Regions from separate parts of the Homo sapiens genome. Here regions 1, 2 and 3 are each reported to be linked to region 4. Evidence: microRNA targets listed by miRTarBase, many of them from high-throughput screens and not tested one by one. Region 4 holds a microRNA gene; each other region holds the end of a gene's coding sequence.

Region 1 (3,000 bases), not on the chromosome of region 4:
CTCTTAGGGACGGAAAACTAAGATATTCAAAGCTACTTGGCCTACATTACAGGATGGCAAATTTTTGTACGTTTATAACCAGTCATTCTGTGGTCATGTCTTAGCCATTTTGATTCTAGTAGCATTGTTCCTGCTGCCCTGTCTCTTGCTACTTTTAATCTGCTATCCAATTTATGAAACCAGATAACTATCTTTATGAAATTAGCAACCTTAACACATATTCTAAGATGACAAACACTAGCCTATACAATCTATGGAACAAAGTGCATTCACTACATGTCTCATATCTTGATGCCTTTTTAAACTTAAAAGAATTCTTGATCCTTTTTTGATAGGTGGGAATGCCCAAAGTTTAATTTTAACCTAAGTGGGAAAATTTCCACATTATAAAGAGATAAAGGTAGAGCTATGAGAGCAGTATGAAATAGAGAAGTAGTAAAAGCACAGGAAGTAAACAGAAGGAAACGAGATGAGAATAAGAAGACAAAGTTGAACGAGTAAGAGAGACTGAGAAGAAAACAAGAGGAAATGGGTAGAACTAACTAGAGCGAGACAAGAAAAATAAGACACAGGCTCCAAGAGAAGTGTTAGGGCAGAATGCCTAGTGCTCTTTTTCACAGCTTGGTGGTTATCTGGGACCTGAGCATAAGTTACCTCTCCCATCACTCTTCTTTGAAATAATCTATCAGTTTAGAAAGTCTCTTTTGCACTGAGAAATAGTGGCATGGTTTTATTTTAAAACTTCAAAGTTAATTTTTTGGCCGGGCTCAGCGGCTCACGCCTGTAACGCCAGCACTTGGGGAAGCCGAGGTGGTCGGATCGCTTGAGGTCAGGAGTTTGAGACCAGGCTGGGCAGCCTGGCGAAACGCTGTCTCTACTAAAAATACAAAAAAATTAGCTGGGCGTGGTGGTGTATGTCTGTAATCCCAGCTACTCAGGAGGCTGAGGTGGAAGAATTGCTCAAACCCAGGAGGCGGGAGTTGGAGTGAGCCGAGATGATCACACCATTGCACTCCAGCTCAGGCGACAGAGTCAAACTCCATCTCAAAACAAACAAACAAACAACAACAACAACAAAAAAATCCCAGAACAAACAAAAAAACTTCAAAGTTTATTTTTGAAGCAAAAATACTTACTGTTTCATAGTAGTCTATATTTTCTACAGAGTATGAAACAATGATCTAGGTTTTAGAGGATCTGTAAACTAGCTCTTGCCTAAAGTCCCTGACATGTACAATCTGTTAGATTGCTGGATACTTTTTGTGGGGGAGGTAGTTTGAGGTTTTCTCCAGTGTGCTAATGTTACAGTTATAACTGACTTACGAAATAACTGCCTTAACTCTTCTTTTCTTTTACCCTAAATGAAATCTTCTTTGTGGTCTGGTTTGACCCTATATGTAGTCTCATTTGACCCTATATGTAGTCTCATTTGACCCTATATATGTAGTGGCGGTAGGAACTAAAACCCTCAGGAAAAGGTGAGTTACTAATATTTGTAGTTTATCTATCAAACAATCTATCAAATTCCAGACTTTCAGTTCAAAATGAGACAGCCACGAAACTGACCAAATGAAACTGCACTTGATATTTTTTTCTGTTCCACACCCCGCACTCATCTGCCTTTACTTACTACCTTTAATCTGTTGATAAAATTGGGAAAAAAACTACATACTGCTGAAAGCAGATTATAAAAATGAAGTTACCAGCTGGGCGAGGTGGCTCATGCCTGTAATCCTAGCACTTTGGGAGGCTGAGGCGGGTGGATCACCTGAGGTTAGGAGTTCGAGACCAGCCTGGCCAACATCGTGAAATCCCATCTCTACTAAAAATACAAAAATTAGCCGGGCATGGTGGTGCACACCTGTAATCCCAGCTAGTCTACTCGGGAGGCTGAGGCAGGAGAATTGCTGGAACCTGGGAAGCAGAGACTGCAGTTAGCTGAGATCGTGCCACTGCACTCCAGCCTGGGCAACAGAGCGAGACTCTGTCTTGAGGAAAAAAAAAAAAAATCACAAGGAACTGAATTATGTTTAGTCCATGAAAAGGAAGATATAAAGAACAGTCTTTGAACAAGTAAAATTCCACCAGAGAGAAGGGCATTCTGGCTCTAACATATATAATAACTTCCCATTCATTAATAGATTCTAGAGGGTGTTAACTGATGTGCTTGCAAGTGGGGAAGAAGCATCATATCATAAACTTGCATTATTGATCCAAATACAAGTGATAACTTTTTCATGTATAAAGGCTTCATGACAAAAAGCTAGATAATTGGCAGAAAACTGGTTGATGATATAGTCAGCATTTCTGAATAAAGAAATGAAGAACATGAGTGGTAACAAGAGCGTTTTCTGACGGTTGAGTCATTGTACTATTTCTTCTTGGATCAGGAAGATACTCATGTAAGAGAGTACACATGATGACTCCGAACAGAAGAACCAAAGTCACAAGATACTGCCACACTTTGAAGAAAATGGCAATTTGCTATAAAATGACACTGGCTCTCTAAGTCTGATAATGTAACAGAAAGACAAACTGTTATATTTCAAATTACATGTGACCTTTACAATGGCCACTGCTCACTAGAGAATTCTGTTCAAAGATTCTAACCCAGTTTAAGATGAATCTTAAGGTTATTTCCTTGCTGTTTCTTTTCAAACCCGTACTTACCTGGCTGATGTTTACATATGACCCATAGGGTTGGTAGTTTCACTAAGCCCAGGATGGGTTCCTGGCAGTGTGGTTGGCGGCTCTGCCGATACGGCAGAAACTTTTTCTTCTTCCCTTCTCTTAAGGCAGGCTGCTTTGGGGTTAAGGTTCCTCTCTAAAACAGGGGGAAAGAATTTTTATCACTATGGTTTTAAGTTATGAATTAGGTCTCAAGCTGAACAAATTGCTGTTGTTTTGTGTAACTTCATTCCCATACTAAGTACCATCACATAGAAGAAACAATGTGCTCACATAAAACCTCAGCATTGAACTGAGCCTCCAGATTTATAC
Region 2 (3,305 bases), not on the chromosome of region 4:
GGATCCTCCGGCCTGGGCTCCCCCTTCCTCCCTTGCCCACGGTCTTGGAGCCCCACTGGGTGCAGGAGCTGCTGGCTGTCCCTGTGGACCCGCCATCCACCGTCCTGCCCACGCCGCCTCAGCCTGCCACCTCCCACCTAGAGGAGACCATGGGCCCTGCCCCACCCACTCCAGGATGTTAGGGTCCCCTCAGCCAAAAAGGCAGCTGCCTGTGGCTCCTGTACCAACCGCCCAGCCACGCTCCATCGCCGCCCAAAGGGAGGTGCCAAGGCCAGGAACCCAAGCCACCCCGGCTCCCCTCGCCTGCCCAGGGGCCGTGGTGACTCACGGGCAGGGAGGCGACATCAGGCTGGTTCTGCCACTGAGCCCCTGAGGAATCTGACCCTCCCCAAAAGAAGCAGTGAAATGGACCAAAGGACTTAAGAATTTGGGGGGAAGTGAGGGAAAAACGTTAGGTGCTAACCACCTGCCCAGAAGAGTGGATCTCACAGCCCAGGAACATTCCCAAGCAGGAAAACCGTCCGTCCGAGGAACGTCCATCCTGGCTCTCTGCGGCTGGTGGGAAAACACACCCTGCCCTGAGGGGCTGTCCAGGCCTTCTCCCCCACACCCTCAGGCCGAGATCCGTGAGAGACCCACTTTGCTCCAACAACTTGAAACAAGTCACTTTACCCTCCTTAGGACCCATTTTGGGGGGGAAAAACCAACACATTCCAGAGCTTTCCAAGTCCTTTGAACTTCAGGTTCACATTCAGGGATCACACAGTTCTGCCTGTTCTCAGGGCACAGCAACTGCCAATCCCGCTGAAGAGGCCTCCCTGGGCACAGCACAGGCTGCACGGTGCACGCATTTCCCTGAAGGCAGCCCCTTCTTCGGAAGCAGCTGTTCCAGGCCTCGGAACAGGGCCTGGGTATCCGCGTGGTGGGCTGGCAGCTGACGGCCTGCTCAGTGGAGCCAGGAGCTAACTCAGACCCCAAAGCAAGCAGGGGGCCAGTGGCGGGGCCCAGCGCCCAGCAGGACACCCATGCAAGAGGCTGAGCCCCCCAACATCCAAGGACAGGAGAGACATGGAGTGGCGCTGGACAGTCACGACAAGGACTTGCCTCCAGCACTGGACACACCTGTGTTAAGACCAGCCCTCTGCTTCCCAGTCCCGCCAGCCTGGGGCATCCTCCATGGGCTCAGCACTGAGAGGTCTTGGGTCTGCCACGTTCTCTAGCTCTCCAGTCACCCACTCATCCAGGGTAGGAGGGGTTCTCCCTGCCCCCCGCCGTGGCCTTGGGATCTCACCCTCTCCATGTCCTGGGGACAGCCTCGCCCTCAGCCGGACTGCATCCCTCCTGGGCCTGAGCCTCGGGACTCAGTGGACACCAAAGTCAAGACCAGCACCCACCACGGGCCCTGCCAGCCTCTGCCTTCCCCAGCTGGCCTGGGTTCTGGCCTGGGTGAGGATCTGGAAGCTGTTGGCAGGACTCAACCAAGCACTGCTCTCTAGCTCCAGGGCACTAAGCCACAGGAGGCAGCGCCCTGCAGCCTCCCGTCCACACTGCCAGCAATGCCCCTGGCCCAGTGAGCCCAGACGCTCCTCCACCCCTTCCAGACCAAGCTCAACGCCTCCAAGACCAGCAGGCCAAGGCCAAGCCCTGCCCCAGATCCTCATAGGCAGAGAAGCCCTTCTGACATTTCCCCCAGGAGGCAGGGGGTGGTCTGAGTCTCCTCACAGCAGAGAGACCCACCGGAGCCCCCTCAACTTTGCAGATGCCCACCTGGAAAATGGGCTGAGCTGCACCAGACCCTCACACACCACAGCACTGCAAGCTGATGGAATGTTCCAGTTATGATGGACACTTCGTGATCTGCAATGACTGTTGATTCAGCACATTAGCATCTGACACAGCCAACCTGAATACTTCCTGCCCCAGGCGGTCAGGGTTATGGCACGATGCAGGTGGCACTCAGGGGCTAACTTCAGGCTGATGAGTGTGTGGGGTATGGGGCAGCAGAGGCAGCCAGCCAGCAAAGAGGGGCCACTGAGCACCAGGGCCCTGGTGGAGGCTGCTGTGGGACGGTCAGGCCACCACCGCAAAGAGGCAGCCGGAGCTTCTGCACAGGATGTCCCTGGCCCCAGGTCCTGCAGCACCTTAGTCCATACTACCAGCCCCACCCACCTTCCTTCCTCTTCCCTCTTCTAGGACACAGGCTGTGGACCCCTTCAGGTGCACTATAATGGGGCTGGAGGGGCCCCCACATCTCTCAGCCCCACTAATGCAGAATCCCACTACCCGTGAGCTAGAAGGTGCTCAGAGGCCAGGGGTCTCTACTGCCCATGCCGGGCGGCCTTCCAGTCATTGCACAGCAAAGCCATGTGCAGGGCGTCCCCCTCAACCCTGCCCTGAACATGCCCCAGGGCACTGAGGGGCGAAGCCAGTGCTTGGGCTCTGCTGCTGGGAGTCTCTGGTCTGTGTCTGTGTGTGCCTGTAAGTGTGAAATAAACCTCTCTGATGGCAGCAAGCCTCTCACTTGTTGTAGGACTGCAAGACACTGGACCGAAAGCCTCCAACACAAACCCTAGCTGCCAACCTGCTCATTTCTTAGGTTTCACTGGTGAGAGCAGCTTTAACACACAGGCCCAAGGCACTACGGTGCACCTCACAGGCCAGTAAGAAACAGGCCCTTTAACTGGAGATTTTAAAGGTTACAGGTTATAGCTTTAACTCCTTCTGAGACAGCATCCATTTCTCAAGAGGCCTGAGCAGGAAGCTCCGGGAGAACCAAGCATGCGGAGCTGCTCAGGGACGTCCACTGGGAAGCCTGGTGTCCACTCCCACCTGCTTGGGCCCTGCAACTGGGGTCCCTGGAGCTGGCCAGGCTGTGGGGCGCCAGAGAGCACAGCACCCTAGTGACCAGCATGGAGCTTCTGGACCGGGTGAGCTGTCTTGAGCCTCAACCACCCAGGTCAGGAGGTCTGGGAGGCCACATGCCTCCGGCCCTCCCTACCCGGACAAGTTCAGGGCAAAGTCTCAGCCGGGGGGTGGCCCCGCAGGACGTCGAGGTCCAGCATCACGGAACCCAGCAGCCCACGGCGGAAAGTCTGCAGGAAGTCACGGGCTGCCGCAGGATAGTTAGGCTGAATAATGTTCACGTTACCTGGGGGACGGGAGGGTTCAGTGAGGAAGGAGCCTTCACAGCAGGACAGGCCCAGCCCTTACCCACCTGAGGGACCAGCCCTAAGAGGCTCCATGATGGCATCAGGGAAGCCCAGGGAACGGGATCACACTCAGAAAGAAAACAGCTTGAGCTACGC
Region 3 (5,490 bases), not on the chromosome of region 4:
GACCCTATCTCTACAAAAAACTTAAAAATTAGCTGGGCATGGGGAGGCTGAGGCAGGAGAATGGCGTGAACCCGGGAGGCGGAGCTTGCAGTGAGCCGAGATCACGCCACTGCACTCCAGCCTGGGTGACAGAGTGAGACTCCGTCTCAAAAAAAAAAAAAAAAAAGAATTAGCTGGGCATGGTGGCACATACCTGTAGTCCTAGCTACTCAGGAGGCTGAGGCAGGAAGATCACTTGAGTCCAGAAGTTCGAGGCTGCAGCAAGCTATGATTGTGCCACTGCACTCCAGCCTGGGCAACAGAGCAAGATTCTGTCTCTAAAAATAAATAAATAGTAAAAAATAAAATAAAATTTGACTTGAAAAGCAAAACAAAAAATCCGGTTCTGCTATCTCTTGTGACAGCCTCTCCATCTGCTTGAAACATACAAATAGAAGCAACTGGGCCAAGTGTGGTGGCTCATGCCTATAAATCCCAGCACTTTGGGAGGCCGAGGTAGGCAGATCACTTGAGGTCAGGAGTTTGAGATCAGCCTGGCCAACATGGTGAAACCCCATCTCTACTAAAAATACAAAAATTAGCCAGGCGTGGTGGTACATGCTACTGGAGAGGCTGAGGCATGAGAATCGCTTGAACCCGAGAGTGGAGGTTGCAGTGAGCTGAGACTCTGTCCCAAAAAAATAAAAAATAAAGTCAAGCTCTAGGTTATTATTTCTCAGGATGGCCACTTAGCATGTGGCGTTGAGAGCTTGGGCATCTTTTAACACAACGTGCAGCTTTAAGGATCTTGAAGATAAATGTCTGTAGTGAAAACTCATTGACTCCATTGAATTCTCCTCGTTCTCTAGTAAAAATACTGTAAATGCCATGAATCGCTACTCAGAGCCTGGCCCCCACCACTACCATGGGCATCACCTGGGAACTTTTTAAAAATGCAGAATCTCAGCTCCCACTTCAGGCTTATTAAATCAAAATCCGCATTTTAATAAGATATCCTAAGTGATTTTGATGCACAAAGTTAGGAAACACATTGAATCACCTGGGGAGCTTGAGCAATACCAACACTTGGGAATTCCCTTCCCTCACTCCTCTCCCACCTCCCACCCCCAGAGATTCTGATTTAATTCATCTGGGCCAGCCTGGGGTTAAGGAGCTTTAAGAACTCCACAACTGATTCTAATATGCAGCCGAGTTTGAGAACCCTTTAGAGTTCTAAGGCTTTCTTCAGCTGGTGCCCATTCAGCTCCAAAGCCAAGCTGTACTCTAAAACCTGCTAGATGCCACTGTCTTGCCTGCCCCCTCTTTGGTGAACAAGGCAGAGTGAGTAGAGGTTGGATGCCCACTTAGGTGACCCTGCGGGGACAGCCAGGCTACCCTAGCCAGCTCACCTCTGCACCTCCTGTCCTGGAGCAAACTAGAGAACAGTAACTCACTCAGCTGCGTTTCCCCTGCAGAGAAACGAGAGAACGTCATGTTTGTGCTGCCTCTGCATGGGGGCCACTTGGGCTTCTTTGAGGGCTCTGTGCTGTTCCCCGAGCCCCTGACATGGATGGATAAGCTGGTGGTGGAGTACGCCAACGCCATTTGCCAATGGGAGCGTAACAAGTTGCAGTGCTCTGACACGGAGCAGGTGGAGGCCGACCTGGAGTGAGGCCTCCGGACTCTGGCACGCTCCAGCAGCCCTCCTCTGGAAGCTGCGTCCCCTCACCCCCTGTTTCAGGTCTCCCATCTCCCTCAGTGACCTGGATCTGACCTCACACCATCAGCAGGGGGCACCCACCATGCACACCTGTCTCGGAGTAGGCAGCTCTTCCTGGGAGCTCCAGGCTATTTTTGTGCTTAGTTACTGGTTTTCTCCATTGCATTGTTAGGCATGGTGACAAGTGACAGAGTTCTTGCCCTCTGTCCAGTTTCAGCATCTGGTTGCTTTTAAGCCAAGTACATCTAGTTTCCCTATTAAAAATGTGTCTGAATAGCGATTTTGCTTTGCCACCAAAAGGCTTTTCCCTGAGAACAGTGAAGGATGTATGTCATTTTGTGGTGGTTGTATGTGTCCTTACATAGACCTTAAAAAGAGCTCACCCTTCCAGGCCAATGCTGAAGACACAGCTCCGCTTGGGAGCCTGAGAACCCAGGCTTCCCAGGCCAGAGTGTGGCTTCTTAAACGGCAAAGGAAATTCCTTTGAGTCACAAGCCAAGTTTTCGCCCTGTCTCCTGAGACCATTTCCCTACGCTTTGCTGCTGCTGAGAGTTACGTGAGGCACTTGTTAAAAATTCAGCCTCCCAGGTCCCTCCCCTCGGAGAGGCTGATTCACTGGGTCTGGGAAGGAGCCTGGGGATTTTAATTTTTCACAAGTGCCCCAGATGATTCTCATCACCAAGCAAATTTTGGAAATGCTGTTCAACAGCGCCCTTAAATTGGAAACATCTTTGCAGCTCGTTTTATTGAAATTCATAATCAGGGGTGTCCTCTAGCTCCCACGGTCTCCAGAGCAGCAAGGCCGGCTATGGAGCTGCCGTCGTGTGACCACAGTGTGATGTCTCAGAAGGGCTCTGGGTGGGCTGAGCATCTGGGCTGTGCCCTGGCTCTGCTTTTCACCCTGGACAAAGTCGCTGTGGACTTCAATTTCTTCACCTCTAAAATGGGGGACTTGGACCAGGTAGATTGCTGAGCTCACTACCAGGTTCAAAGTTCAATGACAAACTCAGTTTACTGAGGTTTGAGAGAACATCCCTCCAGGGGAGCCTGGGAGCTGCTCTCCCAGTCTAAGCATGTAGATATCATCGTTTGCCTTTTGTGTGTGTGTGTCCCTTATTTGATAAAAAGATGTTTTGAGTTGTTTTTTTTTTAAGCACTCACTTGTAATTTTAGTTTTTAAACCCAAGTCCCTCTAACTTTGCCTTTGATACCAAACAATTCAAAAGTTGGATCTGAGTTTGGAGAAAGATATTTCCAACCTAAGTGGGTATTATTTTGAAACCAGATTTTTAATTTAATAGCCTATATTTGTAGTCTGTTGGATAGGTGTTTCCAAAGTGTGTCTTCTCAAGTGAAAACGCAACTCTAGGTTTCAAGTACTCCTTTTCTCCGATCCTGTGGTACTTGAATATCCAAAAACCCTGCACTTTGAACAATCAGCTGTTGCTATCTGGAACTAAACAGAACTATGAGTAAAATTGCCTGGATACTTTAAAAAGATATTTTTCCTCCTTCATCTCCTTTGACTCCAGGACAGACTGGAATATAAGTAGTGGGTCTGCATGGATGTTTCAGGGATCAAAGGAGCCACCTGGGCGCCTGAGTGCCAACCCTCAGGGCCACAGGTGGGTGTGGTTTGGGCACGGGTCCAAGTGACTGTGACGGGACCCGTGGGCATGGGTCCAGGTCTGTAACCTGAAGAAGTTGTTTTCTGACAATCACCAAATCATCCGAATGACATCAAAAGCAGCCCTTATCTCAGAGACTGAGATTTCTGTGGTCTCAACTTCGCTTTGGTATAATTTCTGGCACTCACCAGCCTCTATCATTATGACTTTCCCCCCAGTGTATTATTTCTCTAATAGGTTTCCTTTTCACGTTCTTTTAGCACAGACTGGCACTTTACCCTCTCAGTTTGGAAGTTAGCCCCTCTCCTCTGTTACTTTTCCCTTCACCCAACTACAGCTGTGATCTAGAACATTCATAGTCATATTTCTGCTACTACTACCTTCATTTATCAAGACTTTTTATGAGAATAGGTAAACCAAGCAATAACTTCCTAGGACTGAATCACCACCCCAGAAGAGCGAGAGGCTCCTTTCATATGCCTGAGGCCACACCCCTTAACCTGTTCTGACAAAATAGTGGCTGGCCCATGTACCAGCTCCATTCAGAAATTCAGGAAGAGAAAAGACAGCCCTGTTGTCACACAAACCGGTGTGGGGGAGGGTGGAGCCTGGTCTGCACGGCAGTCCTGGTGGCCCCTGTGGAGGACAGGCAGGGCTGGCAGCATAGCCTTTGTTGCCACACAACCGGAATTTGCTCCCCCAGGACTGTGGGAGCCAGTGTCCCAGCTGAAATCTTTTTAGTGTGTGGCTCTGAATGGCACTCACATTCCATTTTGGCTCACATGAAACTAACTGAAGCCCTTTGTTCAAGCTTCAGGCTCTTAGGCATGGAAATGAGAATGTGACTGTGGCTGTCTTACAGGAAAATTCTTGTTTGTCCCTGAATGAGAGCACAGAGGCATTGAATTCACAGAGCTGCAAACTTGCCTGATAAATGAGGGAGTGGCAGTTTATAGATAGGTCATCTTTTTTCCTTCCTCCAGGTGTCCTTGCCTTTCTTCCCAAAGTCATTCATTTCTGATGAGTATATGAATCCCCCTCTTGCTAGTAAGGTTCTATTTGGGCTAAAACAAGGCTGAATTTTTAAAGAGTATTTGAATATATTTTAGAATCAAATTGAGGCTATAAATTGCATCAATCTGGACAATTCCATTGCAGGAATAATATGTTAAAAACCAATGGGGAGAAGCACCCACATCTCTCCTGTAGCACTCCGTGTCTCATAAGCAATTTGAAGACACTTACAAGTAACTGATTCCAGTCAAATTAGGATTAACTGACTCAAAAAATGGTGTCAAGTTTCTTTAATGTTTTTATGTTAGAAGTGAGTTTAACAGACTTGAAGAAAACTGTTATCTTTTCCTGCTGTGAGTTTACACAAATGATTCCAGAGCAGAATGAAAGCAGAAAGCTGTTGGTTACAATATTCTTTTAACCTCTCTGCAGCATTTTACACTTACTGGGAACCTTATGATTCACCGTAAGAGTGGAAATATACCTGAGTTCGTGTCCTAATGGTCTCTAATTCACATTGGATCGTGGGCAAATCACCTCACCTCTCTGAGCCTGTTCCCTCCTCTTAGACCATCTCTAAGACCACTTCATCTATTTACACATCATTTGCTTGAACATTGCTGAACATCTGCGTGAACTTGGCCTCTCCAGCCCTTGCAGGTGGAAACAGCTGTGTCAAGGCTCAAGGCTCACGCTGAGGGGACTTGGAGGGAGGGGGCTTCTGCATTAAGCTTTCCTGGTGAAGACCCTTGATCTTGTCCAAAGCCCTGTGTCTTTGACTGGCTTCTCTTCAGAGTCCCCGTTGTCATCGTAAGACCCTTGCTGTTTGGAGGGTGGTCTTGTGACTGTGGCAGCTGCTGGCCGCTGGAATGAGGAGCCTATCTCCATCCTCCAGTGTGACTCAGGCAGAGCATTGAGAATTCCCAGGGCAGAAATCCTTCCTGCTCAGGCTTTCATTCTAAAACTACAGTCTTCATTAAAGCTGAACTTTCTGGGTAGCTGAGCTTATATGCCCGGCATCTGAATGAGAGCTCTCTTTGTAACTGTGTGACTTGAGATCTAGTTTGCCAGCTCCTGGGAAACAATACATGTGTTCTTGTTTGTGTTTGCTCAGCAAGCAGATGTCTGAGATGTAAGAAGCTTTTCTTT
Region 4 (3,011 bases):
TAAAGCCCAGAGGACCACTCTGCCCATGCCCCTGCTGTCTTGCCTCCCCAGGAAACCTGCTCTCCCCAGCCCCTATGGACTGGGACATGCTGATGGAACCACCCTTCTTATTCACGGCTGTGCCTCCTAGTGGGGAGTTGGCCCCTCCAGCAGTGCCTCCCCAGGCTCCACGCTGCCATGTGGTGATCCGGGGCCTGTGTGGGGAGCAGCCCATGTGCTGGGAGGTGGGTGTTGGGCTGGAGACACTGTGGGGACCTGGAGATGGCTCACAGCCTCCCTCACCTCCTGTAAGAGAAGCTGCTTGGGACCAAGCACTCCATCGGCTGACAGCAGCCTCTGTGGTCCGGGACAATGAGCAGCTGGCCCTCCGAGGAGGGGCAGAGACCACAGCTGACCGGGGTGAGTTGCTCATGGGTCCAGTCAGGACCCAAAGGCATGGGCTAAAAACAGCAAAGGTAGAGGTCTGTGTGTTTGATCACTCTCTATACCTCGCTTTGATCACAAAGGATTTGAGGCTCATCACAGACAAGATAAAAAATTAAGCGGGACAATGGGAAAAAGTAAAAATAAAAGGAAACTGAGAATGAGGTTATATTAAAGGTGCATGCTGTGAGGTTATATACTCTTGCAAGGATCAGATCCAGAACTGACAAGCTTCCTAGCAGCCAGCACAGAGGGCAACGTGATCCTGTCATGATTCACAGCACCCACAACGTAAAAACAAATCTTTGTCATTTAGGAAAATACTTAAAGTTCATTTCCTCAGTTGCACTAACCACAGCTGAAGTACTCAATAGTCAAATGTGACTAGTGGCTACCACATTGGATCATGAAGAGAGAGAACATTTCCAAGTTTTATTAGTGCAGAAGCAGGTGGAGGAAAATGTGCCAGCTAATGCTTCCTCTGGGTGTTGTCCAGAGTGCTGAATTTCTGGGCAGCCAGGGGGCTCTTGCTCTGCTATGGGTTGAAGATTCAGCCTGATCACTTCTTGTCAAAGTTGGGGAGTCTGAGCTGGTTCTGGGCCTAGCAAGGCAATCTACTCTGTTAAAGTCGATAGAGGGAGAAGCTGGGGAGAACACTGCAATTTTTTCTATGAGCCCTCTGTAGAGGGTGGGTGGTGGGGGCTCCACAGACTGCTCCTTGGTTCCACAGGCCATGCCCGGAGGTGCTGGCTTCGAGCCCTTCAGACAAGTAAGGTCAGCTCTGCCCCCTCCTGCTTCACTTGCCCTGTAGCTGTGGATGCTACTACTAGGGAGGTCCTGCCTGGGGCCCTGCAGGTGTGCAGCTCAGGTAGGGGCCTCTTCTGGTGACCTCTCAGGTGCAGCTCTCACCTCACTGGCCACTCTCCTGGACAAACCTGACTCCTGTCCCATGTGCCCCTGCAGAGCCCGCTGAGCCCCCAGGAACCCCTCCTGCCTCTCACAGCCATCTAGATGCAGCTCCTCTGCCCACTGTTGTCTACTCTAAAGGTAACACCCAAAGGTAGGGAAAGGGTAGGGGCACTTGGGCTTAGAGACCGCCCCCTGGCACTGATGATCCCCACTGCAGGACTTCAGAGAGGCTCTCCAGCAGGCGCCTGGGACTCGGACCAAAATGGCAACTCCAAGCGTGCTTTGGGGGACCCTGCCACTCCCACGGAAGGTCCTCGCCGCCCACCTCCCCGTCCTCCCTGTCGGCTCAGCATGGGCCGCCGTCACAAACTCTGTAGCCCTGACCCGGGCCAGGCCAACAACAGTGAAGGCAGCGACCATGACTACCTGCCCTTGGTGAGGACTCGGGAGGTGGAGGGTGGTGCCGCCGGGGCCGGGCGCTGTTTCAGCTCGCTTCTCCCCCCACCTCCTCTCTCCTCAGGTGCGGCTGCAGGAGGCACCAGGCTCCTTCCGCCTGGACGCGCCCTTCTGCGCCGCTGTGCGCATCTCGCAGGAGCGCCTCTGCCGTGCCTCGCCCTTTGCCGTGCACCGCGCCAGCCTCAGCCCCACCTCGGCCTCATTGCCCTGGGCACTTCTGGGCCCTGGTGTTGGCCAGGGTGACAGTGCCACGGCCTCCTGCAGCCCGTCCCCCAGCTCGGGCTCTGAGGGGCCAGGCCAGGTGGACAGTGGGCGGGGCTCAGACACCGAGGCCTCCGAGGGGGCGGAAGGGCTGGGCGGCACCGACCTGCGGGGCCGGACCTGGGCCACTGCCGTAGCACTCGCCTGGCTGGAGCACCGATGCGCCGCTGCCTTCGACGAGTGGGAACTGACAGCGGCCAAGGCTGATTGCTGGCTGCGGGCCCAGCACTTGCCTGACGGCCTTGACCTGGCCGCCCTCAAGGCCGCAGCCCGAGGGCTCTTCCTGCTACTGCGCCACTGGGACCAAAACCTGCAGCTACACCTGCTGTGCTACAGCCCAGCGAACGTGTGAAGGCTGCCCCCTGCTGCTTGGGCTGGCGCCCCACCCAACACACTCAAGTCACTGCCGCCCAGGGCTGGCCTCTTGGTGCTGGGAAAGTGTAGGCTGGTGCCAGCCTGTCCCCCACTGCTTCTTACTCCCTCCCTAGAGCCCTCTTGCCCCCACAAAAAGTGCCTGCCTGTGCTCTCTCCCTCTCCTCCCACCCCACTCACACTCCCCTCCATCCTCTGAGCTCCCTGCAACACAGTGGAAGGGTAGAGAGCCACAGTCCCCAAATCCTATGCAATAAAGTGCCTCTTAGGACTGCTTGAGTGAATTCTTTATCTGCTCCATACGTGTCCCTCACAGCCTGGACCAGGCATCGGCTGCCCCCACCTCCATGTAGGTTGCACAGAGTTGGACTTAGCAAGGTTTATTTGGAAGGGCAGAGTCCAACCAACCCCAGGTCCTGAGGGTAGACTCAGGTCCTGAGGGAAAGGGGTGGACTTCAGTGGGCTTTCTTGCTGTGTTGGGTGCTCTTGGGGAAAGGCTGCGGGCCCAGCCAGAGCTGCAGCAGGATGACGGCATGGCATATGTGCAGGGCAGCAGAGCTGCAGGATGTGGAAGGGTATGTGTTCCAGGA

Evidence for each region. The annotated mature microRNA hsa-miR-1224-3p reads CCCCACCUCCUCUCUCCUCAG and lies in region 4 at 1,832-1,852, shown strand. An mRNA with a match to its seed (bases 2 to 7 or 8) in the 3' UTR can be bound and repressed. Matches are read on the target gene's strand: a 7mer-m8 pairs with bases 2 to 8, a 7mer-A1 pairs with bases 2 to 7 and ends in A, and an 8mer does both.
Region 1: miRTarBase lists TCF12 as a target of hsa-miR-1224-3p. The part of its 3' UTR that is shown has no 7-base or 8-base seed match.
Region 2: miRTarBase lists MTG1 as a target of hsa-miR-1224-3p. Seed matches in the 3' UTR shown: 8mer at 2,824-2,831, 7mer-m8 at 2,165-2,171 and 7mer-m8 at 1,763-1,769.
Region 3: the mRNA of ABHD2 is a reported target of hsa-miR-1224-3p. Seed matches in the 3' UTR shown: 7mer-m8 at 3,323-3,329.

The regions. Positions count from the first base shown.
Region 1 is chr15:57,282,269-57,285,268 of GRCh38, reverse strand. It overlaps TCF12 (transcription factor 12), which reads right to left. Exons shown (of 21, transcript NM_207037.2): 20 at 2,671-2,824. The coding sequence ends at 2,682. Among named protein-coding and RNA genes, the nearest start is that of SNORD13D, 5.1 kb to the right of the region's middle. RefSeq lists an enhancer at 431-490.
Region 2 is chr10:133,419,869-133,423,173 of GRCh38, reverse strand. MTG1 (mitochondrial ribosome associated GTPase 1) reads right to left here. Exons shown (of 11, transcript NM_138384.4): 11 at 654-3,148. The coding sequence ends at 3,009. SPRN (shadow of prion protein) reads left to right here. Exons shown (of 2, transcript NM_001391974.1): 2 at 1-2,508. Among named protein-coding and RNA genes, the nearest start is that of SPRN, 3.1 kb to the left of the region's middle. RefSeq lists an enhancer at 1-171.
Region 3 is chr15:89,193,773-89,199,262 of GRCh38, forward strand. ABHD2 (abhydrolase domain containing 2, acylglycerol lipase) reads left to right here. Exons shown (of 11, transcript NM_152924.5): 11 at 1,455-5,490. The coding sequence ends at 1,651. It also overlaps the pseudogene LOC124903574. Among named protein-coding and RNA genes, the nearest start is that of RLBP1, 25 kb to the right of the region's middle. RefSeq lists enhancers at 1,099-1,599, 1,600-2,100 and a silencer at 3,866-4,160.
Region 4 is chr3:184,239,638-184,242,648 of GRCh38, forward strand. It overlaps MIR1224 (microRNA 1224), which reads left to right and starts at 1,768; the gene lies at 1,768-1,852. VWA5B2 (von Willebrand factor A domain containing 5B2) reads left to right here. Exons shown (of 20, transcript NM_001390846.1): 16 at 52-399; 17 at 1,154-1,291; 18 at 1,387-1,470; 19 at 1,550-1,767; 20 at 1,853-2,692. The coding sequence ends at 2,401. It overlaps ALG3 (ALG3 alpha-1,3- mannosyltransferase), which reads right to left. Exons shown (of 9, transcript NM_005787.6): 9 at 2,664-3,011. The coding sequence ends at 2,877. RefSeq lists a silencer at 2,284-2,578.